Linked DNA regions of Homo sapiens. The protein of the gene in region 2 purifies or fractionates together with the protein of the main gene of each other region. This does not show direct contact. Each region holds a gene or a part of one and is shown on either strand. Other genes may lie near its edges. The genes, in order: ARPC1A and ARPC4.

Evidence for each region.
Region 1: the proteins of ARPC4 (region 2) and ARPC1A fractionate together in Homo sapiens (co-fractionation; 7 studies listed by BioGRID and IntAct, with this or other methods). This does not show direct contact.

The regions. Positions count from the first base shown.
Region 1 is NC_000007.14:99,321,039-99,329,057, reverse strand, and holds the start of ARPC1A (actin-related protein 2/3 complex subunit 1A), read right to left. Parts: upstream 3,161-8,019; 5' UTR 3,054-3,160; intron 1-3,053. UniProt on the Homo sapiens protein: Probably functions as a component of the Arp2/3 complex which is involved in regulation of actin polymerization and together with an activating nucleation-promoting factor (NPF) mediates the formation of branched actin networks.
Region 2 is NC_000003.12:9,802,980-9,807,740, reverse strand, and holds the end of ARPC4 (actin-related protein 2/3 complex subunit 4), read right to left. Parts: intron 3,899-4,761; coding exon 3,728-3,898; intron 1,532-3,727; coding exon 1,526-1,531; 3' UTR 640-1,525; downstream 1-639. UniProt on the Homo sapiens protein: Actin-binding component of the Arp2/3 complex, a multiprotein complex that mediates actin polymerization upon stimulation by nucleation-promoting factor (NPF).

The DNA.
Region 1 (8,019 bases), on a different chromosome or scaffold from region 2:
AAGTGCTGGGATTACAGGCGTGAGCCACCGCGCCCTGCCCCTCATCCCTTTTCTTTTCCTCCCTCCCTCCCCCCTCATCCCTTTTCTCTCTCTCTGAGTTTTTTTCTCAGACAAGGTCTTGCTCTGTCACCCAGGCTGGACTGCAGTGGTGTGATCTCAGTTCACTGCAACCTCGGCTTCCCAGGGTCAAGCCATCCTCCCACTTTAGCCTCCTGAGTAGCTGGGACCACAGGCATGCATCACTATGCCCTGCTAATTTTTTAGTTTTTTGTAAAGACAGGGGTCTCCCTATGTTGTCCAGGCTGGTCTCAAACTCCTGGGCTCAAGTGATCTGCCCACTTCAGCCTCCCAAAGTGTTAAGATTGCAAGCATGAGCCACCATGCCCGGCCCCCACCCCTTTTCTTTATCTATCACTGAGTACAGAGTCATTCTGATGTATGGCTAGCCATGGGCTCTGAAGCCGAGGCTGGGTTTGAACCCTGGCTTTTGACACACACTAGCTATGAAACCCTGGGCAAGTCACTTGATATCTCTAAATCTCATTTTTTTCTTCTGTAAAGTGGATATACCACTGAGATCACAAGGAGAATTAAATGAGACATGTGAAAGCAAGTAGTACAGAGCCTAGCCTGAAATACATGCCAGCAGGTTCCCTTTCTCCCTTTGACCCAAGGCTTTTCTATTTTTTAAATGGAGTTTTGCTCTTGTTGCCTAGGCTGGAGTGAAATGGTGTGATCTCAGCTCACCGCAACCTCCGTCTCCCGGGTTCAAGCGATTCTCCAGCCTCAGCCTCCTGAGTAGCTGGGATTACAGGCACGTGCCACCATGCCTGGCTAATTTTGTATTTTTAGTAGAGACGGGGTTTCTCCATGTTGGTCAGGCTGGTCTCAAACTCCTGACCTTGGTGATCCACCCGCCTCAGCCTCTCAAAGTGTTGGGATTACAGGCGTGAGCCACTGCACCTGGCCAACTCAAGGCTTTTAAACCAACCATAGAACCCACCAGTTAGTTTCCTCTGAGCTTGGAAACGTTGACATATGCTATAAATTCTTGGCCCTACTCCTTTGGAGCTTGAAAATGCCCACAAAAGTGGGCATTTCTGTCCCCTGTTTAGGGTCAGTTTTCAAGACCGTGATTCACCTAGTTCCTAATCACTCTCATTAGCCAATCTAGCAACATCAAGTACTCCAACAAGGTCACCACACCCTCCTCAACATTCAGACAGGCTCCAGTCCAGGCACCAGCCTCACCAGCAGACCATTTTAAACTTCTTTATATAGGATTTGTTTCAGCATTGGATGAGACAACTAGATCAAAGTATCACCACTCCGCGTCCAAAATAGGAGTTTTCCGAAATGGTCCCTTCCTTTAACTGTGATTAACAGATGAACTCCAGAAGATCTCTGAATACTTTGTGGGAGAAAATAGCCATATAAGCTGGGTGTGGTGTCTCACACCCAAAATCCCAGCACTTTGGGAGGTCGAGGTGGGAGGATAGCTTGAGCTTAGGAGCTCCAGACCAGCTTGGGCCACATATGGAGACCCTGTCTTTACAAAAAATACAAAAAAAAAAAAAAAATTAGCCAGGCGCAGTGGCTCATGCCTGTAGTCACAGCTACTCGGGAGGCTGAGGCAGGAGAATCGCTTGAACCCAGGAGGTGGAGGTTGCAGTGAGCCAAGATCACACCACTGCACTCCAGTCTGGGTGACAGAGTGAGACTCTATCTCCAAAAATAAGTAAATAAAAATAAATGAAAATTAGCCCAGTGTGGTGGCACACGCCTGTAGTCCCAGCTACTCAGGAGGCTGAGGTGGGAGGATCTGTTAAGCCCAGGAGGTCGAGGCTGCAGGAAAAAAAAAAAAAAGGAAGACAACAACCACAGTTACCCACTCCCTAACAGGACAAAAACACCTTCCTGACTGATGCCCCTCCTCTGTTTTTAGATACCTGAAAACCCAGGCCCTATGTGAAACCACAAGACTAGATAAAATTGAGGAGAGAGGGCAGAACTAAGATAATCTCGGCAATTTAAGCTACGAGTTGACATAGACAGAAGGTTCCAAAGCTGCAGGAGAACAGATGGCTTTATAATCAAAGATTCTAAGCTATAACTGATTAAGTGCCTATCATGTTCCCAGCAGTGTTGTAAATACCGGGATGGGGCTAGAAACATAAATAAGGCTGACACCATTCTGGTCTTCAAGTCTGGAGGGTTGGTGTTTGGGGAGAGTGGAGGAGATAGAAAAGGAAAGGAAGACGGATATGCATAGAATGCCCAGAAGCAGTAATAATAGCTAATATTTATTGATCACCTACTCTCGGCCAGGAACTATTCTAAGCAATTTATGCAAATAAGCTCACTTGATTCTTAGCAAAACGGTAAGAATCTTTTTATTGCAGATGAGGAAACAGGCGCAGAGAAGCATCTTCCCAGGATCACTCAACAAAGTGGTGGTGCCAGGACTGGCATAAAAGATTCCACTAAATGAATAAGAGCGCCGAGAAGGGTGCAATTTTGACTTGGGGGAAGGCGGTACTCATGCAGGGAAATCTTAAAAGAACTCGGGAGAAGGTTTTTCTCGAGATCGAGAAGGTTCCCCATTAACCGAAGGATTGAGGGCTGCCCTAGAGAGCAGGCAAACATCCTATGGGCGCCTACTGTATGCAGGGATCGACTCTAGACACTAAAGAGATGAATAGTCCCGCGGGTCGCTCGATTACGGGAGATCCTCCTACTTGACACAATTTTAGAGACGGTGACAAATGCCCCCAGCAGAGGTGCAAGTAGGACCCTGGGGGCGCAGAAGGGGCCGTTAATTCGGGCATCGGAGGCGGCTAGGAGCTCGAACATCCTGAGAAAAGCTGCAGGGGATCCACGGAGAAAGGGGATCCCCGCCCCCTCAGGAGGCCCCGGCAGGGAGACCCGGCCGCGCCTCAGCCTCGGGGCCCCGCGGCCTGAGCCCCCGTCTCACTGCCCCCGCGGCAAGTCCGGCGCCAGGCCTGGACAAGAGAGGCCGACAGGGTGAGACGCTCGCCCCTGCTGGCCGTTACCTGGGATCGGGGGAGTCCGGACGGGCTCGGAGCGGAGGATTCGCGGACTCTGGGCAGTCGACGCGAACAGGCTCCGTCGGGCGCGGGCGGAGGACGGAAGCCCAGAGGGAGCGGCTGACAGATCCCGGAAGTGGACACGGCGCCTGCGCGTTGCGACCGCGCGGACGGTCCGCGCATGCGCACAGCTCGGGCGCGCAGTCCGGGGTTAGGCAGGCTGCAGTGGAGGAGGGTACGCCGTTCCATTGGCGTGGTACTGTCGGCGGCCCTTCAGAGGAGATGCTGCCCCACGGAACGCCTGGCAAGTGCTGGCGAAGCGGCATGGGCGTCCCACTCCGTTCCTCAACCAATTTCCTCACAATCGCGAGCCGAAGTGTGGCGCTTTGGCAGTTTCGCAAGGTCTTTTGTCAGGAGATGAGTTACTGAGGATTGGGGGTCTTTGGAGCTCTTGGACCTGAAGAACGATTAAGTTTTTCTCCCTTCAGAGAGCCAAGGTCAGAGCCAGTCTACCTCAGCGCTGCTCCCTGCAGGGAGCCTCCGCCCCCGCCGTGCTCCCTCTGTGGAAAGCCCCTGAAGCCCCCCAGGAACTTTCTCGACCCTTCCTGGGACAGAATCCCCTGCTCCCAAGCAGTTCCCTGCTCCCAAGATGGCGCAGCAGGGATAAAAGGGTTGGGGGAACTTGGCAAGGCCCCCAATTCACAGAGGACAGAGCCTGCCCCGCAGATGCAGCCTCCAAGAAATGCCCTGATCCCCACCTGCAATCAGGCTGCTGCCCTTGAACCCTAGAAATTCTGGAGCATCCCCAGCCCCCACAGATGGGGCTAATCGAGAGCTTTTCTTTTTTCTTTTTTTTTAGACAGGTTCTCAACCTGTAGCCCAGGCTGGAGTGCAGTGGCGCGATCATAGCTAACTGCAGCCTGGAACCCCTGGGCTCAAGCGATCCTCCCGCCTCAGCCCCCCGTGGAGCTGGGACTACAAGTGCACACCACCACGCCTGGCTAATTTTTATTTTTTGGTAGAGACAGGGTCTTGCTGTGTTGCTTAGGCTGGTCTTGAACTCCTGGGCTCAAGCGATCGTCCCTCTTTGGCCTCTCAAAGCCCTCAGATTACAGGTGTGAGCCACTGTGCCTGGCTAATTTTTATATTTTTTGTAAAGATGAGGTTTTCCTATGTTGTCCAGGCTGGTCTTGAACCCCTGGGCTCAAGCAATCCTCTAGCCTCTGCTTCCCAAAGCGATGTGAGCTCCCCCCCGCCGCCGCCCAGCGCCATGCCAGGCCAACCAAGGGCTTGTCTCCTTCCCTTTGGTATTGTAAGGTGAGGTTTATGTAGGTATACTTGTCAAACTCTCAATTTCAGACCCGCTGTGATCTTTTTGAGACGGAGCCTTTCTCTGTCGCCCAAGCTGGAGTGCAGTGGCGCGATCTCGGCTCACTGTAACCTCCGCCTCCCGGGTTCAAGCGATTCTCCTGCCTCAGCCTCCCGAGTAGCTGGGACTACAGCTGCGCGCCACCATGCCCGGCTAATTTTTGTATTTTTAGTATAGACGGGGTTTTGCAATGTTGGCGACGCTGGTGTCGAACTCCTGACTTCAGGTGATCCCGCCTGCCTCAGCCTCCCAAAGTGCTAGGGTTACAGGCGTGAGCCACCATGCCCTGCCAGACCCGCTATGTTCTTTGGAGTTAGTGCAGAGTTCCCCAACTCCTTGGCTGCTGACGGGTGTTGGTCTGTTGCCTGTTAGGAACCCATTGGCACATGAGGTGAGCAGGGCGAGCCAACGAAGTGTCATCTGTATTTACAGCCGCTCCCCATCTCTGGCATTACGGCCTGAGCTCTGCCTCCTGTCCAATCAGTGGGGGCATTAGAGTCTCATAGGAAAGTGAACCCTATTGTGAACTGCATATGCGAGGGATCTAGGTTGCATGCTCATTATGAGAATCTAATGCCTGATGATCTAAAACCACCCCACCCCTCTCCCCTAGCCCCTGCCCCCTTTTCCGTGGAAAAATTGTCTTCCATGAAACCGGTCACTGCTGCCAAAAAGATTGGGGACCACTGAGTTAGTGAATCCAGCTGTTCATGGAACATCGCTTCACTGAAATTCTGATTTTAACTCTGACCTGTGGTTACAAAGTCTTTGGTCATAGGGTAATCGAGCAGATAGTGTAGAAAGATCATTGTAAATTCATTACCCCCTCCAAGAGACAGCTTGGGAAAGGGAGGACAGCAGGTGTGGAAAGCAGGGATTCCTTGTGTGTCTGCAAGTTACTTGAACCAATTCCCAAGTATGTAGAGGAGTTTATGAAGATCCCACCTCTTTACAAGGAACACTTACTGCTTTGATGGAATTTATAATCTGGGTAGATGAGAGTAACACATGCAAATTAATACCAGACTTTATGATAAGTGACAAGAAATGTTAGCCCCAGAAAAAAATAACAGATATTTACTATTATTAATCTCTGGTTCTGATTTGAAATAGTATTTTGCAATTTAGCCTAACCAAAGCTTACCATTTGATGCATTTCACTTTTTTTTTTTTTTTTTGAGATGGAGTCTCACTCTGTCACCCAGGCTGGAGTGCAATAGTGCGATCTTGGCTCACTGCAACCTCTGCCTCCCAGGTTCAAGCGATTCTCCTGCCTCAGGCTCCTGAGTAGCTGGGATTACAGGCACACGCCACCATGCACAGCTGATTTTTGTATTTTTAGTAGAGACAAGGTTTCACCATGTTGGTCAGGCTCGTCTCGAACTCCTGACCTCATGATCCTCCCGCCTCGGCCTCCCAAAGTGCTGGGATTACAGGCGTGAGCCACCACACCCGGCCCACTTCATATTTTATGAGTCATTCCAGATGGTAGAATCTTAGCTCTAAGCGGGGCTCTTCTGTAATTGAAGAAAAAGAAAAATTTTGACACTTGAGGAATTTTTTTGTTTTGTTTTGTTATGCGACAGTGTCTGGCTCTGTCACCGAGGCTGGAGTGCAGTGGCGTGATCTCAGCTCACTGCAACCTCCACCTCCCTGGTTCAACCGTTTCTCATGCCTCAGCCTCCTGAGTAGCTGGGATTACAGGCGCGTGCCACCACACCTAGCTAATTATTGTATTTTTAGTAAAGATGGGATTTTGCCATGTTGGCCAGGCTGGTTTTGAACTCTTGGCCTCAAGTGATCCACACACCTTGGCCTCCTAAAGTGCTGGGATTACAGGCATGAGCCACCAAGCCTGGCCTGAAACCTGAGGGTTTTGATACAAGGCAGGGAGGGTTGGGGGGCTGGCCACCTGCTCTGGCCTTACTGGTTATACCATCGTGCCCTGCTATAAAAGCCAACCATCAGGGTTCTAAGGAGGGTGAGTTACTTTTAATGTTTGTTTTTAAGGCATGTGTGATGTAGTATCCAAAATGCAGACTCAACCTTTTAAAAGATTAGTATCATGGGTGAGGGGCAGCTGTCTGGGCTGGTGGTACGTGGGTAAAAGGATTTACCAAGACAGTTGTAGATAAAGGCAGATTTGTTAGAGAAAGTAGGAAGGTACGAGAAGGCAACAGGCAGAATCAGCAGAAGAGCAGCCAACTGCAAAGAAAGGCTTGCTGGGGATTTTATGGAATAGTGTTTATGCTGTAATTGTTGGGCGCAGGAAGATTGTGAGTTATTTGCAGAGGAGGGCTGTGTGTCTGGACCATAAAGAATGGCAGACTTGTAGTTTACCTGCTTCTTTTTGCTTCCCCCTGCTCCCACCATCCTGACTCCTTTTCCCTAATTAGACTTAACAATTAGTGCCAGGGAAGGTGGTACTTAGAAGTGGGCAATGGAAGAGAGGGAGGGGTTGGACACTACCGTGGGCTGATTTTGTTTGCTTTGCTGATTGGATTGGAATTGGAATTGAGTTGAATTAGAATTTGGTCAAGATTCAAGGCATCAAATATTTAATAAATACTCACCAAGTGCCAACTATTGTGTTAATAAGAGTAGAGTAAGATCCTTCTGTTCTCAAGTAACTTAGAGATTAGGATATGACCAGTCCACAAAATATTTTATCTTATTTTTAGACCAGGGATGCTGCTAAAATAATTTTAAATAAAAGGAAATGCACAATACCTTGAATCTGGAAGGTCCTGGTTAACATTCGTTGAATGAAAGTGCAAATGAATGAAAGAAAACAATTTGGATGTCAAAGGACACAGAGGTTACTGCTAGTTGAGAATGGAAGGTGGGGCTTATATAGACACATCAGGAACATAATCCATCATAGTTTAGGAAGGTTACATGTTTGTAAAGGCGTAAGGATTTCCTTCTCAGGAGAGCTTGATTTAATAACTGGAATGTGGAGTTGGAGAGTAAGAAGATTGTTTCTTGCTTGTTGTGCCAACAGCTGAAATGGTGAACAATTACTGCAGATCTTCCAATAATGCCTGCCATCTAGTCACCAAAAAAACTGTTGGAAATACTGAATCAATGCCAATAAAAGCTATAAACAAACAAAAGGACAAAACTATTAATGCATATTGTGTGTTATTAGTTAACAATAATCCTTATGCTTTAGATATTGTCCTAATTGCTGGGTATGTTCCCAGTGAGGAAAACTTCCTATGGAAAGGATTTTGTAGAGTTCAATACAGGTGAACTGAAAAGTGCATGTGGATTTTTCCACTGCTCACTCAGTTCATTTCCATAGGACAGAGATGGGACCAGTCACGGGATGTCTAGGGGCACAGGGTAGTCTCAGGTGGTGTGTATAAATAGCATATTATCGCAAATACCATACTTGTAAGACAATCATACAAGCAGACTTGGGAATTCCCTGTGTTACTTACCTAATTTAATAAGTGAAATCTGTAACCCATGAACCTGTAAATCTCCTCAAGGCCAGAGCCACTTAGACATTTTGTTACCGACACATTTTTCCATGTTATGCAAGCTTAGATTATTTTAATAAAATCATTCTGGAGCCATCTAGCACCCTCATCCACC
Region 2 (4,761 bases):
AATCAGGACTCAAACACAAGGGTCTTTTGTCTTTTTACTTCAAGGTGTTACTAAGGTCTAGTACTATCCAATGGAACTTTCTGCAATGATGGGAATCTCTATGTATGTGTTGTATATGCTGTATGTCTATATATGCTGTTATATATGGTACAGTCACTGGTAGCTGTTAAGTTGCCAGTGGGACTGGGGAACTGGATTTTAAACTTTATTTAATTGTAATAATTAAAATTTAAATAGCCACTTGTGGATGGTGATTACTGTTTTGGCACAGGCAAAAGTCTACTCTCTTGCTCACTGGCTAGATTTGGGGCAAGCTATTACATCTCATGTTTGGAACCTCAGTTTCCTTATCCACCAAATGGGAGCACTGTTTCTCTGAGGTTACTTTTTAGCCCAAGTAAGTTCCTTATGTGAAAAGCACCAAAGCTCTGTATAGGCAGACAGAGCAGTTTCAGAAATTAATGGTGCCTGGACTGCAATGAATGGAGTCTCTGGGTTGGGACCCCTGGCAGGAATAATGGCAGGACCAATCATGAGACTGCACCCAGTGGGGAGCTCCAGGCACAATTACCAGCCATCTGGTCTCAGGGAAAAGAAGCCCCACCTCCCCTCCTTTCACACACACACACAGCATAGACCTCATGCAGCCCCAAAGGGGCAAAAAGAGACTTTAATTAGGGGAGGGAGGATCCACCAGAATCAGAAAAGGGACAGCTAGCGTGGGAGCAGAGGAGCCAGAACAGGCAGGAGGAGGGCCCGGCCAGGAAGCTCTGGAGGACTCACCTCGCCACCTCTGGCACAGGCACTGGCACTGACGGACAAGGCGAAACAGCGGCCCCTCTCAACTGGGAGGGCACCCAATGGCCCCTGTAGCCAGAGGTTGCCCGGCTTTTGGGCCCCAGGTCCTAGGCATGACTGGTGGTCACCAATTTGGCCCTTGTCCCCAACCAGTGCTGGGGGGCCATCTTTAGGCAGAACTCAGGAAGCTGGCAGAGAGTTCCCAACACTTATACTGGGGCCAAGGAGGCTTGGGAATAAAAGGGCAAGGGAGAAACTGGAGTCTGAAACCTCCCTCCCTCCCCACCTGGGGTGGCATAGGAGAGAAAAAATAAGTCGCCTTCTGGCTCCAGGCCCGCCCAGACCCACAGCAACCAATAACGTATAATCACTGGGACCAGTCACAGCCACTGGAGGTGGAGGTTTAAAAAAAAAAAAAAAAAAAAAGACAAAAAGGTTACAGTATCCTACAAGCACAGAGTTTAAGTTTCAAGACGTTAAAAAAAATCTGTCCCGGCCCAGGGGACTGAACATCAGAAGCCAGCCTGACCAGGCACGTGTGGCCTTGGGGCAGGTCCACTGCTGCTTTCTTGCCCAGCTAGCAAGCACACCACCCACCTCCCGCATCAAATGCCCACCCCAACCCAACTCCCTGCCGCCGCCGCGCTGCTCGGGGAGTGACTCCAGGACGCCTTCGTGGAGACATGGGTAGTCTGAGGGGGAAGGCCACGAGATCCAGCCAGATGGTTTAAAACTGTCAAGAGAACCAAGAGGCAGTGCATGGTGGTTATTATTGCATCCTGGTGGCACTGCTCTAAGGAGGTGCATGAACCTGAGAGCTGCCACTGTGCTCATATCTGTGAGGGGCAGAGTTGGGTCCCAGGACACCTTGTGGTCATGCTCTAATTCAGCCAGCTTTCAGAAGTGACCTATGGGCACCGGCCCTAAGCCTAGCACTAGATAAGGCAGAAAAATTAAGAGCCATGAGAGCTTCTCCACAGCTCCCTTGTGCCCTGGCATGGAGGCTGCTAGAAAGCCCTGCCAGCGTCCTGCCTGGTGAACTGAGGTTGCTTTCTTTAGGCATGGGGGCTCTCATGCAAGGGGCCTGGGGACTCAGAGGGCCAAGTGGAAAAGGACCCAGGTTCTGGTACTTTTGTGTCAAGCTCTGGATGAACCTCCAACCAAGCCAGGCCCTTGAAATGTTTTCTGCCCTCAAGGGTCCCCCATGCTGCCTAGGACAGCCCTGCACATTTTAGAGACCAAAGGTTGTGAACCAATGGCCCATGCCTGAAACTAGCCCAAAGATGAGCACTGCATGGCCCACATGGTGTTTAAAACAATATGAATTAGTTGCCAACCTTGAAAACATGGAAGATGCCATATACAAATCCAAATTTGGGGGTTCAATGGCCTGGAGCTGTGTGGGAGCCAGCCCCTGCACATGAGGCATGCGCTCAGCAGCTCCTCACCCTGCCCACTCCATACTCAGCCCACTCCATAGCTACCCGACCTTTGGATGCACCTGAATTTGTGACCCTTGACAAAGGCTATGGTACTTTCTTAGACCTCTGAGTCCGAAAACCCAGCTCCACATTCTGGTTCCTCCTCTTACTGGCTGAGGGACTTTGGACAGGTGCTTTTACTTCTAAAGCCCCAGTTTATTAATCTCTAACATGGCGATAATAGCTGACTCAAAGACTGTTTTGAGTAATAAATGGGACATGTGAACATACTTTTTTAGGGGTCCAATTCTGTGCGATATAATTATCATAAATAAGTAAATGATTGTTGAGTGAGTGAGCCAAATATTCAATTGGAACAAGAGCTATTTTCCCCTTCCAGTTCAATCTAGAGGCCTCCTAATATCCTGGCCATAAAATTTTGGTGGTGCAATACACGGAAAGCTTACTATGTACCAGGTGCTACGTTTTACACACATGGTCTCATTTAATGCTCAACCACTGAAAGATAAGTATTAATTACCAGACCTTCATTTCACAGCTGAGGAAACTGAGACTTAGTTGAGAGTTCAGTGACATGCCTGAGTAGGCGGTGGAGCCTGGATTCCCACACAGGTGGGTTGCCTCCATAGCCGAGTGAGCTGAACAGCCATGCCGACCTGTGCACCCACCACAGCTACTCTGTACACTGGCCACCCTCAGTATAATTAAATCCCAAGGGAAGCGGGTATAATTTCCATTTTTAGGAATCTGAGCTCCTTCTGGACTGGGTATGTACTTACTGGTGGGAGTACACACTAAGTCTACCGTCTAGAGATCACAGCCACTCTGGGTGGCACATGTCAACAAACCAAAGATTGCTTGGAAAAAGGAGAAAAAAAAAGGCATGTTCTGAATATCTAAACAACTAAGAACGATGTCACCAGTTCATCAATGTAAACAATTCTACCTCTTCAGATGACTAAAGTGCTTTCAATTAGAAAGACATAAACAACGTAAGAGGAATCTGGAGGACTTACGCCATGCAAGTGATGGAAAACAGGTTGAAGGAATCATGATTTAAGCCTGAGAAACATGCTGAAGGAAAGTACTGAAGTCTATTTGAGAAGTGGAATCATAACATGATTAATTGTCCTATACTCCTAGAAAATTCACATGCAGACTTCACTTACCTCACTTGGGGTTTAAACGAGATAGAGGCAAGGACTTTGTGAACATCCTGAGATGTAGAAATGAGTGACCAAGTTCCTACGAGAGACTAAGAGCCACCCCAGACACCCAAATATAGAAAATGCCTTGTAGCTCTCAGAGATGAACTTGGGGTCCTCTAGCTCCAAAGCACCTGACTGACCTGCTGTGCCCCAGGGGTCCTAGAGAGCTCAGGAGATATAAACACACTGCTTGGACCCCTTTCCCACCAGATGCTAAGTTCTCAACATGACCCCCAGATCCTCTGGCCTCTGGAAGGAAAGCTAAAGGCCCCTACTCACATTCTTAAGGAACTCTTCAGCCACAATGCGGGCACGGGCATTGACTGACAGCTTCATCTCACTGATCTCCTTGTCAATCTCCTCCATGAAGTGGATCACAAAGTCCACCAACTTGTGTTTGTACATCTGCTCTGTGTGGAAGTTGGTGATCAGAAAGCTGATATCATACCCCTAGGGAAGAAGACAGTAGGGAGGGGGAAGAGAAGGAACAGGAGAGAATTAGCACCCCATGGGAACTGAGCTGGTCATGTCCTCCACTCATCCACATGCTTCCCACTGGCTGTGATCTTCTCCCAAGCTACATACCCTTCCAGTCAGCAGCCCAGCTGCTCTGGGGGAGGGTGTCTAGGTTGGATCCAAGCAACTGAACCCCGTTGAGAATTCTGTGTGTATCAGACATCTCTGGAAAACTATCTGTGGCACAACAGCTCTGCATTCAGAATGAGTCAAGGAACTTGAAGTCTTGTTACAGAATAATCTAATCAAACAACAGGGAACATTTAGTCCAGAGAAGAGATGATGTGGAAGATGGGTGGGATTAAGGGTCTTTTTCTGCTGGAGGGCTGTGGGAGGAAGATCAATTTTATTTATTCCGGGTGGCCCCAGAGGTTAGATCTAGGACCAGGAGAGAAAATTTGGCTCAGAATGAGGAAGAACTTGGCTAACACGCCTGACGTGTCTGATGATGGCACATGCTGCTGTGTGGTAGTTGCTTAGTCACTGGGGATATTTTAAGTTTACCTGGCAAGGAGTCTGTGGAGAAGATTCAAGTACAAATTCAGGCAACAACTGACCCAATGTTAACTGTGGCTTTAAGAGACTGATTCAGTGGGCCGGGCGCGGTGGCTCACGCCTGTAATCCCAACACTTTGGGAGGCCGAGGTGGGCGGATCACAAGGTCAGGAGATCAAGACCATCCTGGCTAACACAGTGAAACCCCGTCTCTACTAAAAATACAAAAAATTAGCCGGGAATGGTGGCGGGCACCTGTAGTCCCAGCTACTCGGGAGGCTGAGGCAGAAGAATGGCGTGAA